Linked DNA regions of Homo sapiens. The protein of the gene in region 4 purifies or fractionates together with the protein of the main gene of each other region. This does not show direct contact. Each region holds a gene or a part of one and is shown on either strand. Other genes may lie near its edges. The genes, in order: UHMK1, ALDH7A1, GSTK1, L3HYPDH, MMUT, MAPK13 and RDH13.

The links.
Region 1: the proteins of L3HYPDH (region 4) and UHMK1 purify together in Homo sapiens (affinity purification with mass spectrometry; one large-scale study listed by BioGRID and IntAct). This does not show direct contact.
Region 2: the proteins of L3HYPDH (region 4) and ALDH7A1 purify together in Homo sapiens (affinity purification with mass spectrometry; 2 studies listed by BioGRID and IntAct, with this or other methods). This does not show direct contact.
Region 3: the proteins of L3HYPDH (region 4) and GSTK1 purify together in Homo sapiens (affinity purification with mass spectrometry; 2 studies listed by BioGRID and IntAct, with this or other methods). This does not show direct contact.
Region 5: the proteins of L3HYPDH (region 4) and MMUT purify together in Homo sapiens (affinity purification with mass spectrometry, with the first as the bait; one large-scale study listed by BioGRID). This does not show direct contact.
Region 6: the proteins of L3HYPDH (region 4) and MAPK13 purify together in Homo sapiens (co-immunoprecipitation; one large-scale study listed by IntAct). This does not show direct contact.
Region 7: the proteins of L3HYPDH (region 4) and RDH13 purify together in Homo sapiens (affinity purification with mass spectrometry; 2 studies listed by BioGRID and IntAct, with this or other methods). This does not show direct contact.

Annotation. Positions count from the first base shown.
Region 1 is NC_000001.11:162,525,318-162,528,817, reverse strand, and holds part of UHMK1 (serine/threonine-protein kinase Kist), read right to left. Parts: 3' UTR 1-3,500. UniProt on the Homo sapiens protein: Upon serum stimulation, phosphorylates CDKN1B/p27Kip1, thus controlling CDKN1B subcellular location and cell cycle progression in G1 phase. May be involved in trafficking and/or processing of RNA.
Region 2 is NC_000005.10:126,543,220-126,546,719, forward strand, and holds part of ALDH7A1 (alpha-aminoadipic semialdehyde dehydrogenase isoform 1 precursor), read right to left. Parts: intron 3,181-3,500; coding exon 3,105-3,180; intron 1,801-3,104; coding exon 1,746-1,800; 3' UTR 1-1,745.
Region 3 is NC_000007.14:143,266,441-143,269,615, forward strand, and holds the end of GSTK1 (glutathione S-transferase kappa 1), read left to right. Parts: intron 1-1,176; coding exon 1,177-1,293; intron 1,294-1,650; coding exon 1,651-1,744; intron 1,745-2,347; coding exon 2,348-2,397; 3' UTR 2,398-2,675; downstream 2,676-3,175. UniProt on the Homo sapiens protein: Glutathione S-transferase that catalyzes the conjugation of glutathione to exogenous and endogenous compounds. Significant glutathione conjugating activity is found only with the model substrate, 1-chloro-2,4-dinitrobenzene (CDNB).
Region 4 is NC_000014.9:59,481,609-59,485,660, reverse strand, and holds the start of L3HYPDH (trans-3-hydroxy-L-proline dehydratase), read left to right. Parts: upstream 1-1,252; 5' UTR 1,253-1,344; coding exon 1,345-1,852; exon of another isoform or gene 1,853-1,981; intron 1,982-2,085; exon of another isoform or gene 2,086-2,171; intron 2,172-4,052. Other genes in the region: JKAMP (JNK1/MAPK8-associated membrane protein), read right to left, coding at 545-590. UniProt on the Homo sapiens protein: Catalyzes the dehydration of trans-3-hydroxy-L-proline to Delta(1)-pyrroline-2-carboxylate (Pyr2C). May be required to degrade trans-3-hydroxy-L-proline from the diet and originating from the degradation of proteins such as collagen-IV that contain it.
Region 5 is NC_000006.12:49,456,754-49,460,253, reverse strand, and holds part of MMUT (methylmalonyl-CoA mutase, mitochondrial precursor), read left to right. Parts: intron 1-748; 5' UTR 749-787; coding exon 788-1,172; intron 1,173-2,195; coding exon 2,196-2,563; intron 2,564-3,500. UniProt on the Homo sapiens protein: Catalyzes the reversible isomerization of methylmalonyl-CoA (MMCoA) (generated from branched-chain amino acid metabolism and degradation of dietary odd chain fatty acids and cholesterol) to succinyl-CoA (3-carboxypropionyl-CoA), a key intermediate of the tricarboxylic acid cycle.
Region 6 is NC_000006.12:36,133,513-36,137,012, forward strand, and holds part of MAPK13 (mitogen-activated protein kinase 13), read left to right. Parts: intron 1-2,240; coding exon 2,241-2,349; intron 2,350-2,506; coding exon 2,507-2,536; intron 2,537-2,971; coding exon 2,972-3,019; intron 3,020-3,143; coding exon 3,144-3,258; intron 3,259-3,366; coding exon 3,367-3,438; intron 3,439-3,500. UniProt on the Homo sapiens protein: Serine/threonine kinase which acts as an essential component of the MAP kinase signal transduction pathway.
Region 7 is NC_000019.10:55,046,149-55,049,648, forward strand, and holds part of RDH13 (retinol dehydrogenase 13 isoform 1 precursor), read right to left. Parts: intron 2,616-3,500; coding exon 2,511-2,615; intron 2,394-2,510; coding exon 2,181-2,393; intron 2,110-2,180; exon of another isoform or gene 1,898-2,109; intron 1,341-1,897; coding exon 1,239-1,340; exon of another isoform or gene 957-1,238; intron 1-956. UniProt on the Homo sapiens protein: Retinol dehydrogenase with a clear preference for NADP. Oxidizes all-trans-retinol, but seems to reduce all-trans-retinal with much higher efficiency. Has no activity toward steroids.

The DNA.
Region 1 (3,500 bases), on a different chromosome or scaffold from region 4:
TGTTAAGAAGTTATAAAGGAATGTTAAATTATTTAAGATATTTCAAAAAAGAATTAAGAATGGAAGAGTAAATTCTGCTGGAAAAGATAGGGCAGCTTTACAGTCTGCAAAGTAAATAATCTACAGAGATGCAGCTTAACTTTTTTTTATTATAATAAACATACTTATTTCCATAAGGTGCTGTGACTTTGCAGCTAGTGCATACTAATGCCACCCACTGTACCCAATGTGCAAAAGGAAATAATGGAGATGGCTAACCTCCAGTTTTCTGATCCTTGATTTGCATAAGTGGTGATGTACACCAAATACACAAAAGCTGGAGTATAAATATTTATTTTTAAAAATTAGGCCAAACTGAATATAGATATTTAATCTGGTTTCACAAACTCTTAAAATAATTTTCTGAGGAAACAATGATGAGGAATGTGTAGGAAAGGCAATGTTTCTATGCTAGCGGTACCAAACCTGGAACTTTAAGTATCATTTTTTAGCTCATTAACTATATAGAAGATTACTAAGACCAGTAAGGGAGCCATTTTCTTCCCCTCCTCTATTTTTATTACTTATCTCTCTCCTCTTTACTCTTAAAATTGGCAATCTTCTGACAACCCAAGCTAATAAAATAATATAGCTATATATAATTCAAATAACTAAAGAACTTTTGAGTCCATATATGCAGGATTTTTGAATACCTCACTACATTTGCTCTTATACCCTCACTGTCCTGGTATCATAAATATTATTAAGGGAAGATAACTTAGAAGGGGAAAGCAATTCCAACCTGGGATAAAAAAGTGATTACAAATAATTATCTTGTTGATAGTAAGGGCTTATGGTAACAAGTAGCTCTGATTTTTCACATAAAGATCCCCCCCCAAAAAAACAAAATACAAACAATTCCAGTTTTTTTCCCCCAGAATGTGACTTATTTCCATTATACAAAGCAGTATAACAAAATAAGCTCTCTTCTGCACAAAAAACGATTAATGGTTTATAAGACAAATAAGTAGAATGCTTCTCTTTGCCTTTAAATTAAAATACTATGAACCTAGGTAACAAAACATACATGGCTTTCTTCAAAAGGGCCACAAGATTTCTTCTGGTTATTGTGACAGCTACCCAATTTAATGGGAAATAACACTCAAGCAGTCATTTGGTAAGTTTCCCATGAATTTCAGCATTTACAGTGCCACAAACACAACTGCCACAATTATGACAACTCTCTGAAAAGCACAAATAAAGCAAATTTAAAACATTAATCCTCATAAGCAGTACAAGGCAGAACAAAAGTGCTGAGTGGTAGGAAAATGAATAAAAATTTCCTATCAGGAGAATAAAGTTTGTGTAAACTATCTTATATCCTGAAGATCACTTTAATGACCACCTATAAAATACAAAGTTTCCTAAATACTCTCTGATTTATAGATATTTCTCTTACAGTCCACTGCTCCTATAAAATTACAGCAAAAAATATTAAAATTATTTACCTTCTTCTTAAATATCCATGGCACTTGTCAAGTACATGCTACTGTGAATCTACTGGTCATTATATAATTTAAAAATAGTGAAAAACATCTGAGGGAGGTGGCTACAATAACGAACATGACATATCCTATAGTATTAGGCAGAGAAGCTATCCTAAAACAAAATGAAACAAAATCTTTACAATTCTGGGTACTCCAAAAACTAAAATATCCATGTTCTTCTGTGATTAAGAATGGGACTTATCTTAATATACCACAAGAGGCTCAGCTCTGTATGATGGAGACAACATTTTTATATTCATCAAGAAAGCTAGTAAGTAATACTAACTTGAAAAACTACCATCTCAAAATAAAGGTGATTGACTGAGCACCTTAAGAAATGGGGATTCTTTTGAGCTAATTGTGACCAAGTACTTGTCTATATGTGACCATAATTGACAAGAAATGAAATTATATCACAGAGCTACAGTAGTAAAATTTGATGAAGGAACCTGATATTAAAAACAGAACTAGAGATCCAAGGAAGAATTAAATTCTGCCAGACAATTCTGGCTTTTCCATCATATATAATATTGGAATAAAATCAAATATGAATAGTTTTACATATACAAAAAAATAAGGTAAACCAAGGCTATTTCCAGGCAGACAGTGAATATATATATGAAAAATAAAACAAAGGTAAACCCAGAAAATTTTGGACTTTTATACTATCATATGTGACTCAATCTAAAAGTTACTCCAGGAAAAAGGCAGAAGTGCTATTAATTATCATCATCTGGGAAGCTTTCACCCAAATGAGTTTTAATATTTTCCAGCAAACACAAGGCACTTGCTTAAATCTTTATCTACACAGCCATCAGACTCAAAGTCATGATGTGATTCCAATGTACCCGAATCTGAATAAAGCCACCTAGCATGTACCCCTGCATAAGTGTCTAGGTAAATAGATGGTTACTGAGTGTCTCCCCTACTCCTTCACCCAGTAACTATGTTGTTACAATTACTATCATTTACAATGGTGCTGATTTTCATTAAATTAACTGTAAAAAAAAAAAAAAGTCATGCTGCCAAGTATACTGATAGTAGAACTTATGTGTAAGATAGGCCTAACAGTCAGAAAATAAGACCTAAAACAAAAAGATACCCAAATGTTAGTTATCTGCATGATAAATTAACTAAAACAAGCCATGAAACAGCATCTGATAAGTGCTCTAACTCCGCCTTTTATTCCAGAAAAGTAACTGATGCCCTTACCAGAGTGAAGGTCCAGTGTAATAAGACAGAAAAAAGCCTTCTGCCCATGGTTTCTCTTCAGCTTTCTCTATATGGCAGCATTCCTTATAATAAACTTGCTCAATAGTTAAAATATAAGCAACATGAATCTAGAAGACAAGTTAAATAAGTATTTGGAGATTTTCTTTTAAAAAATAATTTAACATATCTCAGCACTCTTTAGCAGCTGGAGTACCAAAAAGAAGGCAATATTTCTCTCAATAAAAACAAAGAGAAGTTCGAGTAAAACCATACTTATGGTTTTTGTTCTAAAAGCAGCCAGTTTGGCTCAAGGCATAGCAGAAAGGGAATCCCTCTAAAGAGAGCTGCTATATTGGTGGCCACAAAAAAGGAAGACATCCAGTGGTAATAAATGCGGATCTCTTATTGCAAGAGAATAGTTTTAAAAATTCCTTTAAAAGGCAGTCAGTACTTTTAGTTAATGCTGTCTCTTACTGAGGTGTCCAACTCTACTTGTTTTTGTCCTGTAAATACAGCATTAGTTTTGACAGTGGCTAGCTAGCTACCCCCTCCAAATATATTTCAAAAGAATCAAGTATTTCCCACAAAATAATCACTGTATGTGCCTTTTCTGGGTGTACAATGTGCCACAGTAATACCCCAAAGAAGTAACTGGGAAGGTGAGAGGCAAGGAAGCACAGGTATTAATTTAGGGAATGAAACACTACCTGAGACAAAATTTGCCCAAAAGGGTAGGGGTTAAGTGACATGAACCCTCACCTC
Region 2 (3,500 bases), on a different chromosome or scaffold from region 4:
GAGGAACAAATTGAAGGCATATGTTTTAATGAACATTATAACCAAAAAAAATTGAGTCCTTGTGCTAGAAACATGTAGAAGAAAAATTATAAATTTGTTTCAAAGAAAGCTTTCAGAATCAGTTTTACCTAAAATCTATAGCTAAGATTATCACTCCCACATACCCTCACCCATGATTTCTTCCTGCCAACCTTCTCTCAATAGCTATATCAGTATTTGGCTTGATTCATGTTCAATATTGACAACAGCATGTCTAGTTAAATACTGCTCGCAGCTGGCCATGGGACATATTATGAATACCTTTGCTTCCCAGATACATTTATAATTGTTTAGTTTTTCATTTGCTTACTTCTCTGGGCCATAATTCAACCCCAAATTATTTGCCATTTGTCCAGATCTCTCCACATCCTGATGGATCAGGTTGTCTACAAATGTCATCTTGTTCAAAGGCCTCTGCTCCATTCTAACCTGGCAGGAGTAGAGGGGTGCCATGCAGAAGGGGAGCAGAGAATGCCAGGAAGGCAGGAGAACAGGGGCCTCTGGGCTGAACCAGCCCAAAGGCTCCTGTGCAGCTTCCCAGTGAGAAAAGGTGAGACTGTCAGCAAAGAGAAAGTGAACTTTGCCCAGCTCTCTATGACCACATGCTGCCACACACACTGAGGATTGAGAACAGATCCAAGGGCAACCGCAGACGCCTAAAGCTAAAGAAGGTGGTCTAAGGTTGTATAAAAAAATCCAGATGCACTTTTTTTTTTTTTTTTTTTTGTAGACAGGATCTCACTGTTGCCCAGGCAGTGGCACAATCTAGGCTCACTGCAACCTCTGCCTCCTGGGTTCACACAATTCTCCTGCCTCAGCCTCCCTAATAGCTGGGATTACAGGTGCCTGCCACCACACTGGGCTAATTTTTGTATTTTTTGGTAAAGACGGGGTTTCACGATATCGGCCAGGCTGGTCTCAAACTCCTAGCCTCTACTGATCCACCCGCCTCGGCCTCTCAAAGTGCTGGGATTATAGGCGTAAGCCACCTTGCCCAGCCTCCAGACGCATTTTCTATACAACTCTGCACGGGCAATTTTGGCCTCAGAGTCCTCCAGCAGGTGGCAGACTCCAGCACAGGAACAAAATCTGTCTACCCCAGAAATCTCTTCCAAGTTGACACAGCCTTCATAAGCAAGAGCCATAACTGTGATGAATGCCTGTTGTCATTTTAAGCACTGCAAGTTATTCCACATGAATACTGAACTGTGGTCCAAGCATACAGGGGAATGCATCCCCCTTTCAATCACACGACATCCAACACATGCCATAGGTGGGTAATGTCAAGCAATATTCACCCCCCGCCCCTGAATCCTTCACTTGGTCAGGAGACACCCTGTATCTACTGCAAAGACTTCTGTTTTCTCCTCGGTTCTGTATTTTCCCAAATTCCTACCCTGGTACGTACTATTTTTTTCTAATTACAAAATAATCATTAACTTTTAAAAAGCCATGTACAACTAGTTGACATAATAAAAATCCACCTAACTCATCTTTTAGTAACTATGGCTATGTTGTAACAATTTTATTTTGATTTTTAAAAAAGGAATCTCTTGATTTAATCAGGGCTTTGGGGTCATAGGGGGATTAGTCACTGTCACAGTCATAATAATGCATTTATTCAGGGAAAACTTTAATTTTCTTTGTCTTCTCCAAAAACAGCTGCTGGAACACCTCAAATTAAGGGATGTTCATCTAAAACACCTTTACTGAAACTTGATTCCTTGGGCCAGAGGAAGGTCTTTACTGTAGTTGATAGTACTAGTGGGAAAAAATAACAGAATTAATGACAGTACATACATAACAGAAGATTTTCATGCCCACTTTTAAAATGTAGCAGATCTGTATATATTAACAAGGCAAGATCTCCAAGTTACAACTTTTTAAGACAAACCTTTAAGATAAAAGACAATGTTAGTATGGATCCCGTTTTATTTAAAAGAAAAAAGACAGAAACATAAAAATCTGGAAAGACATACCATACATGGTTTTTTTTGTTGGTGGTGGTTTTTGTTTGTTTGTTTGTTTTGTTTTGAGACAGGGTCTCACTCTGTCACCCAGACTGGAGTGCAATGGCACAATCTCAGCTCACTGCAACCTCCGCCTCCCAGGCTCAAGCGATTCTCCTGCCTCAGCCTCCTGATTAGCTGTGCACCACCACGCCTGGCTAATTTTTGTATTTTTAGTAGAGACGGGGTTTCACCATGTTGGCCAGGCTGGTCTTGAACTCCTGACCTCAAATGATCCACCTGCCTCAGCCTCCTGAACTGCTTGGATTACAGGCATGAGCCACTGCAGGCGTGGATCACCTGAGGTCAGGAGTTCAAGACCAGCCTGGCCAACATGGTGAAACCCGGTCTCTACTAAAAATGCAAAAATTAGCCTGGCATGGTGGTGCAGGCCTGTGATGACAGCTACTTGGGAGGCTGAGGCAGGAGAATCGCTGGAATCTGGGAGGCGGAGGCTGAGGCTGCAGTGAGCTGAGATCAGGCCACTGCACTCCAGCCTGGGTGACAGAGCAAGACTCCATCTCAAAAAAAAAAAAAAGTGTGCCCTCAAAAGTGCAAGAAACAGCCCAGCATGGTGGCTCATGCCTGTAATCCCAGGACTTTGAGAGGCCGAGGCAGGCAGATCACCTGAGGTCAGGAGTTCAACAACAGCCTGGCCAACACGGTGAAACCCAATCTCTACTAAAAATACAAAAATTAGCCGGGTGCTGTGGCTCACGCCTGTAATCTCAGCACTTTGGGAGGCCAAGGCGGGTGGATCACCTGAGGTCGGGAGTTCGAGACCAGCCTGACCAACATGGAGAAACCCCAACTCTACTAAAAATACAGAAACCACGCACGAGACCATTTCATTGTTGGGTGCTGGGCACTAGCTGAAGCTAGACAAGAAGGCTAGAAAAATAGCACCAAATAGATACTTAGAGGAGACAGCTGTGGAATGCTGGAAAAATCAAATCAAATGACACTGCACAAAGACAGCACAGACAGTAGGAAAGTGTAAAAGCCCATTCCCAAGGGTTTTAAGCCCAAACCTATCTTCCCAAAGCCTTTTCTTACCAAGTAGACCTTCTCATGTACTGTTTCCAGGCATCACTGCCAGACTCCCTGCCACCACCAGTGTGCTTTTCTCCTCCTAGAGAAATAAAAAATAATATCATATCTTCTGAGCAGTTTCCATGTGGGCTCATAGTTGGTATCAATGAAAAGAAGATACCAAAAGGACACCAGAACAACCTGATTATTTACTTTACATTTAGCCCACAATATCTCCCCTGCAAACAAATCAAAGACAGAGACCAAGAGACCAAAACAAACAGAAAAAAGGAATTAAGAGGGAAAATAAAATATAAGGAATTAAGAAGAAATGGAAACAGAAAGAAACGGTAAAAAAAAAAAAAAATCCCATTAGCTGGGCGTGGTGGTGCATGCCTGTAACCCCACCGTGCCCAGCCC
Region 3 (3,175 bases), on a different chromosome or scaffold from region 4:
GTAGGACATAATTCTCTAATTTAACCAAGTCAAAGATAGTGTCTCATTAGGACAGGCTACATGAATTCCTGGGTCCCACTTCTGATCTAGGAAGTCAAGTTGCAGTGGTTGTCAATCTTGGCTGTGAATTAAAATCACCTGGAGCACCTTGGCGCTAACCCTTTCCCCTGGAATTGTGATGTAATTGTTCTTGTTCTTTTTTTTCTTTCTTTCTTTTTTTTTTTTTTTTTTTTTTTTTTGAGACAGTGTCTTGCTTTGTCACCCAGGCTGGGGTGCAGTGGCATGATCATGGCTCACTGCAGACTCAACCTCTTGGGCTCAAGTGATCTCGCATCTCAGCCTTACGAGTAGCTGGGACTTCAAGCATGTGCCACCATGCCTAATTTTTTAAAAATTTTTTGTAGAGATGGGGGTTTCACTTTGCTGCCCAGGCTGGTCTCGAACTCCTGGGCTGAAGCAATCTCCTGCCTCAGTCTCCCAAAGTGCTAGAATTACAGGCATGAGCCACAGTGCTTGGATCTAGTTCTAAGGGATGACCTCACGTGGAGATTTTTTAAAGCTCCTCAGGAGTTTCAGATGGGCAGCCAAAGTTAAGAACCATCTATCCCAAACTATACCAACAAACCACAAACTGAAGCCTTTATCTTTGTCTTGAAGCCAGGTAGGTGGCTGCAGCCATGTGCCTTGTTACAAAGTTCTCAGGAAGTTCCACTGGAATTACAGCCTAGCTCTTGATTCAAAAAAAGCATGAGATACTTAGGAACTGTGAGAGGTAGGAAGGAAAGAGCCCTGGACTTGAATTCTAGAGACCTGGATTCTAGTGTTGGCTCTGCTACCAACATGCTCTGTAACTCTGAGCAAGTAATGTATCACCTCTGGATTCAGGCTCTTCATTTGTGAAATAAAGAGGTCTATCTAGCTGCTCTCTAAGATGTCCGCTGGTGTTAATTTCTGTGATTGACTCTGTGCCATCTACCTTTTCTCCTTTTCCACCCATCTCAAGATTTGGGATAAAGGAAATAGTTCCTCTTGGCAAGGACAGATCTCCACTTGTGGGTGGGTAAGGGCATTGCCAGCAAAACTTGGGGGCAGAAAATAAAAAGACCAGAGTTTTCCTCTGAGATCCCCATCCAATATCATGCAGACACAGTTGTATTCCCTACTATATTCCCTTAGGCTGCAGAGAAGGCTGGTATGTCTGCAGAACAAGCCCAGGGACTTCTGGAAAAGATCGCAACGCCAAAGGTGAAGAACCAGCTCAAGGAGACCACTGAGGCAGCCTGCAGATACGGAGTGAGCAGCTCTTTATGTGTGTTCCCAGCACCCATCCTGAAGATGGAGACTTGAGAATCTCTAAGTTTGAGTCCTTATGCTCCTGTACAAAAGCCCCCTTTCCAAGTGTTCTCCTCAGTGCTCTTAAACAACCCTCATCTTCTTCCTTCTTTTCCTTGGGCTCAGGGAAAGGAAGGGAAGGAGATGCACAGTGAGAGAAAAGAGAGCATCTTAGAAACAGGAAGGCACCTGGGGCCACAGAGCCTCTTAGACCTCTTTGCTTCTGTGAACTCAGAAAAGTACTGACTCAAAGGTTTCAACCCCTGCCTAATACCTGCTCCTTTGCCTTCCTCCTTGCATTGTAACTGCTTTCTCCAGGCCTTTGGGCTGCCCATCACCGTGGCCCATGTGGATGGCCAAACCCACATGTTATTTGGCTCTGACCGGATGGAGCTGCTGGCGCACCTGCTGGGTAAGTAAGTTAAAGAATCAACCCTGAGCCAGGTGCAGTGGCTCACGCCTGTAATCCCAGCACTTTGGTAGGCTGAGGCGAGCAGAGCACGAGTTCAGGAGATTAAGACCATCCTGGCCAACATGGTGAAACCCCGTCTCTACTAAAAATATAAAAATTAGCTGGGACTACAGCTGCCTCAGTGGGAGGCTGAGGCAGGAGAATCACTTGAACCTGGGAGGCGGAGGTTGCAGTGAGCCGAGATCGCGCCACTGCACTCCAGCCTGGGTGACAAAGCAAGACTCCGTCTCAAAAAATAAAAAGATTCAACCCTGAGCTGCCTTTGACCCCAGCTCCACACCCACTATATCAGTTGACCAGAAGGAGGGGCTCAGAGCAAAAAAATATTCTTGGCACTTCCAGTAACAAAGCGTTATGCAGTCAGTGCTGTTCAAGGTTGAGTGGGCAGGGGCTGTCTTCAACCCCATAAAAGAAAAGGAAGCCTTCTATACCTTGAAGCCAAGCAAAAGTCTTTCTAGAAAACCCCTGGGACCTTGTGGGACCAACTCCTGCTGCCAGAACACCTGAGAACAGTGTGCAGAGTCTGTTGTTTTCTTCATCCAGGAGAGAAGTGGATGGGCCCTATACCTCCAGCCGTGAATGCCAGACTTTAAGATTGCCCGGAGGAAGCAAACTCTTCGTATAAAAAAAGCAGGCCATCTGCTTAACCCTTGGCTCCACCATAAGGCACTGGGACTCGGATTTCTCTATCTGATAGAGGTATTTTCTGTGGCCCTGGGAGCTGTCTGTCTTTCCCCTACCCCCAAGGATGCCAGGAAGACGTCCACCATTAGCCATGTGGCAACCTTTACTTCTATGCCTCACAAGTGCCTTTCAGAGAGCCCCAATTCTGCTTTCCCACAAAATAAACCTAATGCCATCAGGCAAAACATTTCTGTGTCTGTATCTGCCCTGGTATATTCTCATTCCTGGGGTCACATCCTGCCTACTCTAGGGGTAGGTGAAGGAGAGCTGTTTCAGTATTTCCAGCCAGACCAGCCATGCAGCCCACCTTGAGCAGCTTGTGCGGTGGAAGAAGTGAGAATAGTCCCCCGTTCTCTCACACAGAAACTCCCCTGGTCTCTCTATCAGCAACAGAAAACCAAGCCAGATGGACTTTGCAACTAATCAAGTTTGGGATTTACTGTCTTCTGACCAACCACAGTGACTGAGATGGGGCTGGGACCAGAAGCCCAGTGGGAGTGAACAGCCGAGGGAACCAGAGTCTGGCTGAGCTTGTGGCCAGATATTTAAACTGGGTCCAGCCACACCTGCAAAACCAGGGCAAGGCAGTACCGGGAAACTGGCTGGAGTTGCTGCGGTTTGGGGAAGTTGCACACCCTTTCATAGATACCTCCCTTAACCCTCAGTGCAGATTCTGAGAAAACTCCA
Region 4 (4,052 bases):
GGGCTACAGAAGGAGACTCCGTCTCAAAACAAACTGCGGTCTACATGTGAATTAATTTGAAAAATTATGCATCTTTTGACTATTCTTGAACAATCATTTCCCAAATTATTCACGAATTCACAATCTAGACTGCCTGGTCTACAGTGCCTTCTCTCCTTTCACATTCAAGCAGACTTTTTACTTCCTTCTCCTTATGCTGCTGAGAGAAAAAGAGAAACAGCATTGAATAATATTCCTCCAGTTTAATATTTTCGCTTTTAACAAATTTCGGACTTAGCTTTTTAAACCCACTGGCCTCTTTAATGGGCGCTTATTTTTTTTGTAACCAATTGTAATCACAATGTTCTAAATTAATACATGAAAATGAATATTTCAGGTTTTTCAAGAATGCAGAAGGTAAGGAATTGGAAACTTCTGTATGGGCTTTACATCTAGTAGATGCTTAATAAATACACGTGAATATCAATAATCTAAAGTTTCTCAAAATCCAAGGCCTGAAAACCAGTATGATAAACTGAACTGAAATAAACAGCCTATCACTTACTAAGCAAAACCCAGGCTCCAAGCGACTGTTGAATTTCTCCTTTCATTTCCTTTAGCGAACGATGGCTAAAGTTTTAAGATTCCATTTTTTTGCAGCGGTCCTGCCCTTTGTGACGGGCGCTATAAATCTACGTTTGAGGTTGAAGCAGTAGACAAATTATGCAGCAACTTGCTTCTGCTTTACTGTTTTTTCTGCACTATCACCCGCGTTTTCAATTCCGAAGTCAACCCTCAAGCAAGTGTTCCCTCGACATTAAACTAAGGGACTGAAGAGACATTTCGGACCAAACAACAAAGACCTGGCATTTCGCCGCAGACAGCGCGCCTCCCCTAGTAGCCCGTTGCGGACAGACCACCCCAACCCCGCAGGAGTGCGGAGCCCGGCCCGAGGGCGGGCGGGGTCAAGGGGCGAGCCTGCGCCGCCAACCGAAGGCCGCCTACAAAGAGCCGAGCCCGAGGCCAGCCGTGTAGGAAAGTAGTCGGGACTACCAGAAACGCTTCCCGGGATCTTGGCGACCACTCACCCATGGGCCGCCTGAAGGTTTTTTTCGAGAAGCACTAGATCAGCGGATCTGGCAGCTGCACCGAACATCCGGGCCACAGCGAGCTCGGCGGCTCCGCCTCCCGGTAACCCGGGCGACAGCTCCGAAGTTCCTCCCTCGCTTCCGGGTTTAGGCTCCGAGACCCCGCCCCCCGGACGTGGCTGGTTAGCGTCCCGCCCTCCTCCCGCGGAGTCAGTGGGTGAGGGTCGGGCTTGAAGCCATAGCTGCGGGACCGTACTCGTCTCCCCCGACGCAGACCATGGAGAGCGCGCTGGCGGTGCCCCGGCTGCCCCCGCATGATCCAGGGACGCCGGTGCTGTCGGTGGTGGACATGCACACGGGCGGCGAGCCCTTGCGTATCGTGCTGGCGGGGTGTCCGGAGGTGTCTGGGCCCACCCTGCTGGCCAAGCGGCGCTACATGCGCCAGCACCTTGACCACGTGCGGCGACGGCTCATGTTCGAGCCCCGAGGGCACCGGGACATGTACGGGGCGGTCCTAGTCCCGAGCGAGCTGCCGGACGCGCATCTGGGCGTCCTGTTCCTGCACAACGAGGGCTACAGCTCCATGTGCGGCCACGCAGTGCTGGCGCTGGGCCGCTTCGCTTTGGACTTCGGGCTTGTGCCGGCGCCCCCTGCGGGCACCCGCGAGGCCCGCGTCAATATCCACTGCCCCTGCGGGCTGGTGACCGCCTTCGTGGCATGCGAGGACGGCCGCAGCCACGGACCGGTGCGCTTCCACAGCGTCCCGGCCTTCGTGCTGGCCACAGGTAATGGGCGGGACCTTTCCAGCCCAGGGCAGAGCTGCAACCGGGACGCGACTAACTACATTAACGGTTTTTCTGGGCTGGAACTCTGGCAACTAACCTACTCCGCGAAACCTTGCAATTAATAGAAAGGTAAATCACTGCCAACGTGTGTCAGCAGCCTTGCGTATTTGGTGCGTGTAATTTCGATTTTCCCTGACTCCCATCCGCCTGTGGTTTTGGGAGACCCTTGAGGAGCGAGGAATTGCGTGTTACCCTGACTCAGCGCCTCCCTCTGCACTGGTGAGGCATTCCTAGAGATTTCACCGGTGGATAAAGCAAGGTACGGTGGGGTCAAGGAAAGAGCGAAGAACAGCCAATGTACCAGGGTTCCAGGCTGGCTGAGAATATGCTTGGTAGACACAGAATCACACTTAATAAGTTACTAAACCTGGTCTCCTTTCCTCACCTCCCCCACTTCTTTGAAGAATTAAATGAGAATGAATGAACAAAGCAGTTTATAAATCATTAAGATACGAATGTTGCTTTTCTTTAAGAACAGGAACACACATTGCCTGGTTTCAAATCCTGATAACCCCCTAAAGCTGTGCAACCTTAGGCAAATTACTTAATCTCTCTGTGCCTGTGTTTCTTCTTTTCCCTCATAGAGTTTTTTTGTTAGGATTAAATGAGAGTATGCAAGATACTGTATTCCTGGAGATAGATTGCAAGGTTTATATGATCGCTAAAGTTCCCTAGGCCTATTGAGCCATTAAAAGGTTTTGCTGGATTCTCTAGTACAGATCCTTGTACAGCTTATCATGTAAAGCAGGGCATCTCTATAACCATAACCCTTACAGGAGGGATGACCTGGCAAGCTGGCATCTGGTTTCTCATCAGACTACTACCTCCCAGGAGCTGAATTCTATCAGTAAGAATGCTTTAGTCATTGTGACTGGAAGTGAGCCAGGAGCCAGTTTACCAGGAATAGAGTTATCCTTTTCTTAAAAATCTTCAAGCCATGCAAATCATCTGTTAGAAAGTTGGACCTTGATTCCCCCTGAAGAACTAGGTTTCAGATTAGCCTGATTATGAATGATAACTGATAGAACAGGCACTTTTAGAGCAACCTTAGGCAGCTGAAATCCACGAGTTAACGAAGAATGCCTCTGGAGAAATTGATGCCATTTTCCCAGAGAATGGTGTCACTTCCAGACTGGGAGGCCACTTGAGGGAGACAGAATTTATGTTTACGATTCCATTTTTAAAACCTCAACAGTTTAACTAGCGTGGCTACCAGAATTCCCCCTAGGCAACTCCAGCAGCAGAGTAGAAACACTCTAGACTTCTGTAGGAAATGGCAGCTGGCAGCAGGAACACAAACTACATCTCATTTCTGGGTCAGTTAGGGCAGGGTCAGTCAACCACTTGACCTCAGTAGTTCCTCTCAGTAGTTCCTGAGAGCATCACTGTATGACAGTACAATGATTAGTGGGCATTAATGGTCACTGAGTTAAGAAAATGAAATGCTATATTCTCTACTTTGAAAAATGCATACAAGGCAGACATAGTGTTCAAGGTCACTGCCCCACCTCTCCCCATCTCAGTGACCTTGTGCTAGAGAGTCCATGCCTCAGTATCACAGTCTGCAAAATGAGGATGACAACAGTACCCACCTCAGAGGGTTGCTGAGTTCATCTCCACCCCACCAGGCTAAAATGCAAACTCTTTCTTGTTCACAGTATTCTAAGTGCCTAGAAGAGTAGTCAGTCAATGAATGTTTGTTGAATGAGTAACTAAATAAATGAAATTTGGAGAAGAATATGCTGATTGACAAATGTAAACATCTGGTCCTCTTGAGAAACCTATTGCCACTGGAAATTAAAGTTTTGGCTTTCGAGTCCCTAATCTGTGCCAGGAACTCCCCATACGTGGAATTTTCAAAACAACTCTTTTAGGAGAAATAGCAGTTACAGTTTGCACAAGACACCAAAGCCACACTAATGGCAGAACTAGGGTTGGAACCCTGGCCTATCATATTGCTTCCCTCTCATCCTTAAAATTTTTTGTAGTTTAAGGAGATATGTTTCAATTTTCTAGAATAGTGCTTAGTGTATTTTAAAGCATTTTAAAATCTGTCTTGTCCAACTAAACTCCAAGAAGGGGAAAAGCCTATGTTTTATTCCTTGTACTTCTCGTATCTTCTACAGTAATCGGCACATAG
Region 5 (3,500 bases), on a different chromosome or scaffold from region 4:
ATTGTAAAGATTAAAATTGCTACTCTCTGTGATGTCTTTATAGCCTTCTATGTTACTGGCACATAGAAACGCTGCAAATTGGAGATAATGCCTTAGCTGAATTAGCCAGAGAAGAACATTTTAGGCAGAAGGAAGAGCAAGAGCAAATTCAGAAAACTTTGACATATGTGCAGCCAACTGTAGGTAATCCAGTATTTCTAGTGCACAAAATGCATAAAGAGGACAAAGACAGAGATGGGTCTGAGGGGGAAACAGAGACCAGTTCATGAAGGCCTTGAATGCCTGTTTGTCTTATTCATCACTTTTTTCTCTATTACCCAACATAATGTCGGTCATAAACTGATATTTAATAAAAGCACTTTGAATGAAAAAATTAATTAGGAGGCTGTAGTATATCTTCCACATGATACAGAGTCTTTGAAAAATTCCATGAGGAGTGTGACATAGTCATATTTACATTGATGTCATTGTATGGAAGGGATTCGTATAGAATGGAGTAGAAAAGGAGTAAGACTGGTCAGTAAGACCAGCTAAGAGGCTACTGAGGAAAAAGACTGAAACTACAGGACTGATAGTAATTGTGAAGAAGAGGGGCCAAAGTTATAAAATATCAGGTGCAGGAAGCAGAAAAGGGGAAGAAATGAAATCAGACTAATACATCCTCTTTCTTTTCTGTTCCTTTCTTATGAGTAGCTCCTATTTCCCACCCCCTCTTCTAAATGTTTTTACTCTATGTTTCTTTTTCTAGGTCAGTTCTTATTTCTATTGGGTGTTTCCATGCTCCACCATGTTAAGAGCTAAGAATCAGCTTTTTTTACTTTCACCTCATTACCTGAGGCAGGTAAAAGAATCATCAGGCTCCAGGCTCATACAGCAACGACTTCTACACCAGCAACAGCCCCTTCACCCAGAATGGGCTGCCCTGGCTAAAAAGCAGCTGAAAGGCAAAAACCCAGAAGACCTAATATGGCACACCCCGGAAGGGATCTCTATAAAACCCTTGTATTCCAAGAGAGATACTATGGACTTACCTGAAGAACTTCCAGGAGTGAAGCCATTCACACGTGGACCATATCCTACCATGTATACCTTTAGGCCCTGGACCATCCGCCAGTATGCTGGTTTTAGTACTGTGGAAGAAAGCAATAAGTTCTATAAGGACAACATTAAGGGTGAGATTTTAATGTAAGACATAATATTTATGATAAGTCATATGCCTCCTAGTTTTTTATTTTTTGGGGGTTAATCTCTGTAAAGATGATATTCACTCTATAATTTTGTAGTTAAAGACTATACTCTGAAAAAAGTGGATTTTTTTAACTTCTGTGGTCAAAAAGATAAGTGAATTAGAATAAGGTGCTAAATTTTTGAAAGAAAACAACACATGCACGTTGTTTAAAAGGAATTAGGTGAGGTAAAGTTGCATGAAGAAAAGAAGACATTAGCTTTGCCTTCGAAAAATGTTCAATTAACATTGTTGGGATAGCGATTGGAGAGGAAGATAGTTTAGATGATGCCCAAAGAAAGTGTAAATGTGATAACGTGGTACAAACATATTCAGTGCAACCTGGCATTCATTCACTGAAAATTATCTTAACTATTATTTCTTCTTTCTGAGCTGTAATAAAATTGTACTGTTTGAATACTAAACTTGTAGATTTATAAGTTTGTATTGCCCATGGAAGGTTGAACTTACATTTAGTATAGACTATTTTAGTTATTTAAAAATTTTGTACGATGGTCATAATTCTGTTTTCCAGAATATTTGAATAGCCAGGAATCCTTTGTGACCATATTAGATAAAAGAACAAAATAGTAAGCAAGCATACAAATGCTAAGTTATTTTTGCCATATATGAACAGCCAGATCTTTTCATGAATTTTAGAAATATTTCAATCAAGTACCATATCTTCAGATAGATACGAGATGATTGAGATTTGTTGTTTCTCCCATTCTTTCCTTTAGTGAGGTCTGGAACTAAATTTGTGCATTTTGGCACAAGGGAAACAACTGACTCTCTTAAGAAGTGAAGTATCTTTATTTAAGTTGGTTTTGACATGTATGAGCATAAAAATAGTTGTTATAAAAGTGTACTGTTATGAGATGAATCAACATTTTTAGTAGTGTTAAAAGTAAATCATTTTACCTTGATTCCAGACTCTTGAATCTTACATTATTTTTCTTTATATATTTAGCTGGTCAGCAGGGATTATCAGTTGCCTTTGATCTGGCGACACATCGTGGCTATGATTCAGACAACCCTCGAGTTCGTGGTGATGTTGGAATGGCTGGAGTTGCTATTGACACTGTGGAAGATACCAAAATTCTTTTTGATGGAATTCCTTTAGAAAAAATGTCAGTTTCCATGACTATGAATGGAGCAGTTATTCCAGTTCTTGCAAATTTTATAGTAACTGGAGAAGAACAAGGTGTACCTAAAGAGAAGCTTACTGGTACCATCCAAAATGATATACTAAAGGAATTTATGGTTCGAAATACATACATTTTTCCTCCAGAACCATCCATGAAAATTATTGCTGACATATTTGAATATACAGCAAAGGTATACTTTGTGGTTATTATAGGTTTTTCTATAGTTCCTTGAATGTAGGAATTTTTACAACATGCTATAACTGAATTTAAAAATTTAGTCTGAGTAATATAAATTTAGAATGTTTTGTTATTGTTACTTTTTGTTTTTAATGTACTAATTTTATGTTCTGTCGTTACTTGCAGGAATCTGGGCAACAGATCTTTACTGTGTTTTCTTTATTCCTAAAATTTAACTCTGATAATTGTTAGATTCAGGGAGGTCTTCTACTTACATTTTTAAATTTCCCTCCGAAATTCAGATGCAGTTGTGAAGTAGACACTGGTATCAGACAAATGGGGATTGGAATATCAGCTTTATTTCTGCTAAAAGCTGAATTGGAAGATATCACTTATCACTCATATCTGCAACCTCAAGGAGGTCCCTAATATTCACCCTTGAATTAGGCTCATCTTTCCCAATAAGAATGATGGGAAAAATCCTTCCATAGGGACACATTTTCCTCCTTCATTTTCCTGTGAGCAATTTGTTTATATTTCCCCCCATTATTCACTCTTTGCTTCTTACCAGCAACGTACTCCTTCTCCTTACCTACGTTAAAGTTAGATCATTATTTCATGGCACAGAGAAAATCGTCATCAACCCTTTTTATCTTTATCAACCCTTGTAATTACTGTTATCTCCAAACTCTAGCAAGCATTGTGTAGCAAGCATTTTATGTTTGGTTAACTCTTGGTAAAGATAGTTTTTCTTGGCTGTGCAGGATATGTGTGATGTACTCTACCTAACATGAAATTTTAGGGGAATAGTGGAAATACAGTTTTTGTAGTGATTGTGGTGGAAAGAACCTGTCTGGGATATGCTTAGTATTAAATGTCACAGTAAATCAAACTGAAATCTTTGATTTTTAAAGCCATGCATTTTATCCCATTTTGTTTCAACATATAGT
Region 6 (3,500 bases), on a different chromosome or scaffold from region 4:
GTGAGGTGGCAGAGGTGGAGGAATGGGCAGGTTCCTGCTTGAAATACACGGTAGAGGAAGAACAGATCTTGGGGGAAAGATAACGAACTCCATTTTGGACACTTTACTTTTAAAGAAACTGTGAACATTCCAATGTTTAATCACAGTTGCAAATAAATATGAACCTCAGGAGACGAAGGTCTGGGCTAGGGATGTGGATTTGTGCTGGAATAATCACCGATGGGTTATAGCTGACACCCGGGAACAGATAATTGTAGAATGTGGTAAGATAGTATTGATTCAGATATCAACATGAAAGAGAAGATCCAAGAGGATGAGCAGATGGAAGAAGCTGAGAGGGCCTGATAGGAGGCAGAGGAGAGTCAGCAAAGAATTGAGAGGGAGTTTCAGACTTGGTGAAAGGTTAGATCAGAAGAAAAGGGAGTCATGGTGTGTTTGTCGGGTGTTCACTGGTGACCTTGAGCTGAGCAGTCTGGCAGTAGGAGGGAAGCAGAAACCAGGTTAACTCAGGACTGGGAGGTAAGGCAGTGGGATCCAGGAGTGTGGACCGCCCTTTCTAGAAGTTTGGTGGTGAGAGAGGGAGAAGGGGTGGTCAGTTGAAGAAGCAAAGTCAAGGGAATGTGGTTCTAGCACAGAGAGGCTTCAGGAAGCATGTTGCCAAGATGAAAGAACCAGTGCCCGAGTGGAGGGGAAAGACACAGGAGGGGACTGGGCATGGAGAGGCCCCCAAGGGAGGTGTGTGGTCCGGCAGGAGAGGGCTGCCAAAATCCAGAGTCTCCTGGAGATGCCTCCAGCATGTCCTTTCAAAAACAACAACAACAACAACAACAAAAAACACAACCTATTACATAATTGTTTAAGGTAACATTCATTTTAAAAAAGTTTTAAATTTATTATATTCTAGAGATAGGGCTGGGTTGCCCAGACTGGAGTGCAGTGGCACAAACACAGTTCACTGCAGCCTCCAACTCCTAGGCTCAAGCCATCCTCCCGCCTCAGCCCCCCAAGTAGGTGGGACTACAGATGCATGCCACCATGTCCAGCTTTTTGTTTTGTTTTAATTTTTATAGATATGGGGTCTCACTATGTTACTCATCCTGATCTCGAATTCCCGGCCTCAAGTGATCCTCCCACCTCAGCCTCTTGAGTAGCTAAGACTAAAGGTGCATGCCACCACACCTGGCTAATTTTTTTTTTTTTTTCTGAAAGGTGGGGTCCAGGCCGGGCATGGTGGCTCACGCCTGTAATCCCAGCACTTTGGGAAGCCGAGGCAGGCAGATCACCTGAGGTCAGGAGTTCGAGACCAGCCTGGCCAACATGGCAAAACCCCGTCTCTACTAAGAATACAAAAATTAGCTGGGCGTTCTGGCGTGCACCTGTAGTTGTAGCTACTCAGGGAAGCTGAGGCAGGAAAATCGCTTGAACCTGGGAGGTGGAGGTTGCAGTGAGCCAAGATCACGCCACTGCACTCTAGCCTGGGCGACAGAGCAAGACTCCATCTCAAAGAAAAAAAGAAAGGAAGAAAGAAAGATGGGTCCCTATGTTGCTCAGGCTGGTCTTAAACTCTTCGCCTCAAGCGATCGTCCAGCCTCCATCTCCCAAAGCACTGGGATTGGAGGTATGCCCCTGGCCTATTTTATAATTTTTATTATTTTTTGTCTTTGTCCTGGTCTTTGCTTTTACTGTAACAGTTACATTTTGCTGGCCTTATCCTGTTGTGCAATCCCCTAAGAGGCTGCAGGAGCCTCCCCATCTCCCTCTTCCACCCTCCTGGAAACTGTTGTATTGTTTCCTTCTTGGAAAGGTAGACATATTGTTTGTTTGTGGAGCCATCTCAGCTGGGCATGACCCTCTGAGGGATCAAATATTTGGACAGAAGCCGAAGGAAATACTGGCAGATGTTTCTAACTCCTAGCTGTGGCTTTCCCTGGGGTGTGGAGGAGGGCAAGGAGAGAGTACCTTTGAAGAGCGGGAACACAGTTCCATGTGGCTTTCCTGAGCGCGCTCCAACTGCAGCGCTTACTCCGAGCTCTGCCAGCTGGGCGGCCCGCCACAGGGAGACTGGGAGCCAGGAGCCCAGAGGCCCGTGTGGTGATCTGGCTGGCTGAGGTGGAGTTGAGTTTTTGCACACTGGAGGGTGTCTCTATGACCCCTGTTCTGCCCTGAGGTCCCTCCTCTGAGCTCTGACCTGGGGCTGGGTGGGACCCGGCACTGTTCCAAGAACCCCTCATGCCTTCCAGCTACCTGGTGATGCCCTTCATGCAGACGGATCTGCAGAAGATCATGGGGATGGAGTTCAGTGAGGAGAAGATCCAGTACCTGGTGTATCAGATGCTCAAAGGCCTTAAGGTGGGTGGGGACTTGGAGGCTGGCAGAGGGGACGCCTTGCTGTCTAGACCTGAGGTTTGGGGAGGCTGGAGGGAGCGCACTGTTACAGGTCGGCCAGCCTGAAGTGCCTGGTGTGGAAGCTGGGCCATGGACTCACCCTTCTCTCTCTCCCACATAGTACATCCACTCTGCTGGGGTCGTGCACAGGGTGAGTGCTTTCTCTGCCATGGTCCTCAGAGGCCCCTGTCCCATCCCTGGGTATGGGGTTCTCTGGCAATCAAGGAGTGGGAAAGTTGGAGGGAGGGGACACTGCCCAGGAGCACAGAATGTGGAGTTTTCACACCCAGCCACGGCCCAGGAAGGCCTGCTCAAAAGAGTCACTGTGTCCCAGGGGACTTCATGGGGAATTGCTGCAGACAAAGTGAGCCCTGAGCTGAGTGTTTCAGGCTTCAAGAATCAGGAACATTTTAGAGCTGGGTGGGCCCTGAGAGAACACCTAGTCCAACCCTCATTTTACACATGAAGAAACTGAGGCCCAGAAGGGGAAGGGGCCTGGCTGAGGTCACACCCCTGGGTGGTGGTGGAGCTAGGACAAGCTCCATCTCTGCCTCAGCCTAGCATGCATTCTCTGTCCTCCCCCCAGGACCTGAAGCCAGGCAACCTGGCTGTGAATGAGGACTGTGAACTGAAGGTGAGTGGGCTGCAGGCTCAGCCCAGAGGCGGGATAGGCCCTCCCCCAGGGAAGCCCCTGGAAGCCGCTCCCAGAGCCTCCTCCCCTCAGCAAGTTCCTTTTCTATTTATCCCCTGTGCCATAGATTCTGGATTTTGGGCTGGCGCGACATGCAGACGCCGAGATGACTGGCTACGTGGTGACCCGCTGGTACCGAGCCCCCGAGGTGATCCTCAGCTGGATGCACTACAACCAGACAGGTCAGTGGTCAATGCCTGAGAGGGCGGTCCTGGGGCCATCTGGTCACTCGGTGCTGACTGACTGCTGGGCCCCAGACAGTCCAGGTGACACTCTCCCTCCCTCTGCAGTGGACATCTGGTCTGTGGGCTGTATCATGGCAGAGATGCTGACAGGGAAAACTCTGTTCAAGGGGAAAGATTGTATCCTTTGCTGGAAAAGCCAAACTCCATCTAGGGATTCCTTCCTTCAACAGACACTTTAT
Region 7 (3,500 bases), on a different chromosome or scaffold from region 4:
AGACAGGAGAATCACTTGAACCGAGGAGGCAGAGGTTGGAGTGAGCCAAGATTGTGCCACTGCACTCCAGCCTGGGTGACGAGCAAAACTCCGTCTCAAAAAAAAAAAGACATTTATTTATTTATTTATTGAGACCTGGTGTCTTGCTCTGTCACCCAGGCTGGAGTGCAGTGGTGTGATCTCAGCTCACTGCAACCTCTGCCTCCCGGGTTCAAGCGATTCTCCTGCCTCAGCCTCCTGAGTAGCTGGGACTACAGGTGCACACCACCACACCTGGCTAATTTTTGTATTTTTAGTAGAGACGGGGTTTCACCATGGTGGCCAGGCTGGTCTCGAACTCCTGACCTGAGGTAATCCGCCCACCACAGCCTCCCAAAGTGCTGGGATTACAGGCGTGGCTATTAGCCTCGCCAAGTTAAGATTCTTGATGCCAACCAATCACCCACTCCATGTTTTTCAGGATTATAAACACTAGTCATAAAGCATGAACTGCCTGGGGGTGGTGGCTCACACCTGTAATCCCAGCACTTTGGGAGGCAGTTGGATCACCTGAGGTCAGGAGTTTGAGACTAGCCTGACCAATATGGTGAAACCCCACCTCTAGCTGGGTGTGGTGGTGTGCACCTGTAATCCCAGCTACTTGGAGACAGGAGAATCGCTTGAACCTGGGAGGTGGAAGTTGCAGTGAGTGGAGATCATGCCATTGTACTCCAGCCTGGGCGACAGAGCAAGACTTCATCTCAAAAATAAGTAAGTAAAGCTCCAACTGTTTGTTCCACCTATTCTCTGGGCGGGGTCCTGTGCTGGCCCTTTCAAGGAAGGTCTCGTATAACCCCCCCAGTGACTGTGAGGTGAGTCCTATTAAGGCCTGCACTCTGCAGATGAAGAAACAGGCTCAGAGGGGTAACAGCTCTTCCCCAGGAGGTGCAGCTGGTTTGGGGTGAAGCTGGAGTTACCCTGAGTACAGCCTGACTCCAGGCGTCAGCTCCACGGCCTCTTCCTCTGAGACACGGTTTTCTCATCCGCCAGCAGGGCTCTGCCTGCTTCCCGGGGCTGTTAGAGGCTGGCAGGCCAGGTCAACGGAGGAAAGGGACCTGTGCTCTGTGCCTCAGAAGACGTAGGCGAGGAGCAGGCATGAGGCCTCAGGGACGGTCTCTGAGGGAGGGTCCTGGGCCCTGGGCTGAGAAAGCAGGGGTGGAGGGCTCCACGTGGAGACCCCAGGCTGGGAGGGGACTCACCGAGTGTGGTGCTGGAGAAGGTGGAGCCATGGATGCCCGTGTGTCTGCCCAGCTCTGTCCTGGCCACGCCGGGGTGCAGGGCGTTGACAGTCACACCAGAGCCTGGGGAAGAAAGAAAGAGAAGACTGAGGGAGGGGTCCAGCCTCACCTGGGAGGCTGTGGCAGCCCACACCCAGCTGTGGGGCTTCCGGGCACCAGGCTGCTTCCTGCACTCAAACCCCATCGTCCCTCTTGCTCTGGAATCTTAGTGAAGTGGTCTTATCTTGCGGAGCGGCTCTGCCACATGGCTGCTGGGAGCCGAGCTTTCCTGGAGGGCTTCATAAACCCAGAACGCTGAGCTTACCCCGGGAGCCTGCATCGGTGCGTGGCGGTGGGACCTAAGATACTGTAACTCTGACCAGCTCCCAGTGGGGCTGGCACCGCTGGTCCACAGACCGTCTTTCAGAAGCAAAGGCCTAGCACAGATTTCTCAATCTCAGCACTGTGGATGCTGTGGGTTGGGAGGAGTGAGGGGCCATCCCGTGCGCTGTAGGACATTGAGAGCATCTGGGCCTTTACCCTCCAGATGCCCAGAGCAATCTCTCCCCAAGCCAGCTGTGATCACTGTGTTTCCAGGCATTGACAACTGCGGGTCAAAACTGCCCCTGGTTGAGACTCACTGGCTGGAGCCAAAAGGCTGAGCTGCCTGCCCAACAGCAGCAGGGAAGGACATCTGATCCAGGCAGACTAGACCACCTGGGATGAACAGACAATCCTCAGAAGAACGATCGATTAGTGATGTCTGCTTCAGGCACCAGAAGCGGGCAGCGTGGTCCACATGCTCTACTTTTGCTGACTCTGTTCTGGATCCACCGTTTGGCCTCCCATCAGCCTAGGATCATGGAAAGGCCGCTCTAGGCTCAGAGTAAAGCAAGAGGGAGGCCGAGCCTAGCGCCCCCGTACCTTGCAGCCGCCGGCTCAGCTCCTTGGTGAAGAGGACGATGGCGAGCTTGCTCTGGCAGTAGGCGGCTTTGGTGTTATACTTCCTCGTCTGCCAGTTCAAGTCGTCAAAGTCTATGTGCCCAGCAACATGGGCCAGGGACGAGAGGTTGATGATCCGCGAAGGGGCTGAGGCTTTCAGCTTGTCCAGCAGCAAGTTTGTCAAGAGAAAGTGACCTGGATTAAGGATGATGAAAAGGTCACTTTTGACTCACACCTAAAATCCCAGCACTTTGGGAGGACGACGGGGGAGGATCGCTTGAACCCATGGTGCAGCCCCTGCCCAGGCCTCACCCAGGTGGTTAACGCCAAACTGCATCTCGAAGCCGTCCTCGGTGGTCCAGTGGGGGCACCGCATCACACCCGCGTTGTTGATTAGAATGTCCACTCGCTCCTCCTCTGGAAGAGAGGGGTGGAGGAGGAGACATCCCGGTGAGGACAGACCCCAGCCTGATGCACCAGCAGAAACACTCCTGTGCTCCCACAACCTGTGAATGTGGCCTGTGCCGGAAACAGGGTCTGTGCCGAAGTGGCCATGTCAGGATGCGGTCATTAGGGTGAGCCCTAATCCAATGACTGGTGTCCTTATAGGAAGGGAAAACAGAGACAGAGACACATGGGGAGAAGGCCATGTGTGGACAGAGGCAAAGACCGGAGAGGCACAGCTCCAAGGTGAGGGTGGGCCGCCCCCGCTGGAAGTGGAAGAGGCTGGGAGGATTATGGCCCGTCTCACAGGTCACAGCCACAGGGACACCGCGATTCAGACTGCCGGCTTCCGGAACCGTGAGGGAATGCACGTCTGAGGGTGTAAGCCACTGGGTTTGCAGTACATTGTTACAGCAGCTCCAGGACACTCACACGCCCTCCGCACCTCCATCTAAGCCTTGGGACTCCTTCCTGCCGGAGCCCCGAGGCCAAAAACGGGAGGTTACCGGTGGGAGCCCCGGCACCGCAGGCGTGGTTTCATTCCCAAACCTGCCACCTCACTCATACAAGCAACCAAAGGACACACAGATGGAGACTGCAGCCTCAGTTTCCTCAGCTGTAAAATGCGCTGAACCACAGGGCCTTCCTCCCTGTACCACTCAGCTCGGGTTCCGTAACAAAGTGCCACAGACAGGTGGTTTAAAACCTCACAGACCTGGCCGGGCACAGTGGCTCACGCCTGTAATCCCAGCACTTTGGGAGGCCGAGGTGGGCAGATCACCTGAGGTCAGGAGTTTGAGACCAGCCTGGCCAACATGGAGAAACCGCGTCTTTACTAAAAATACAAAATTAGCCAGG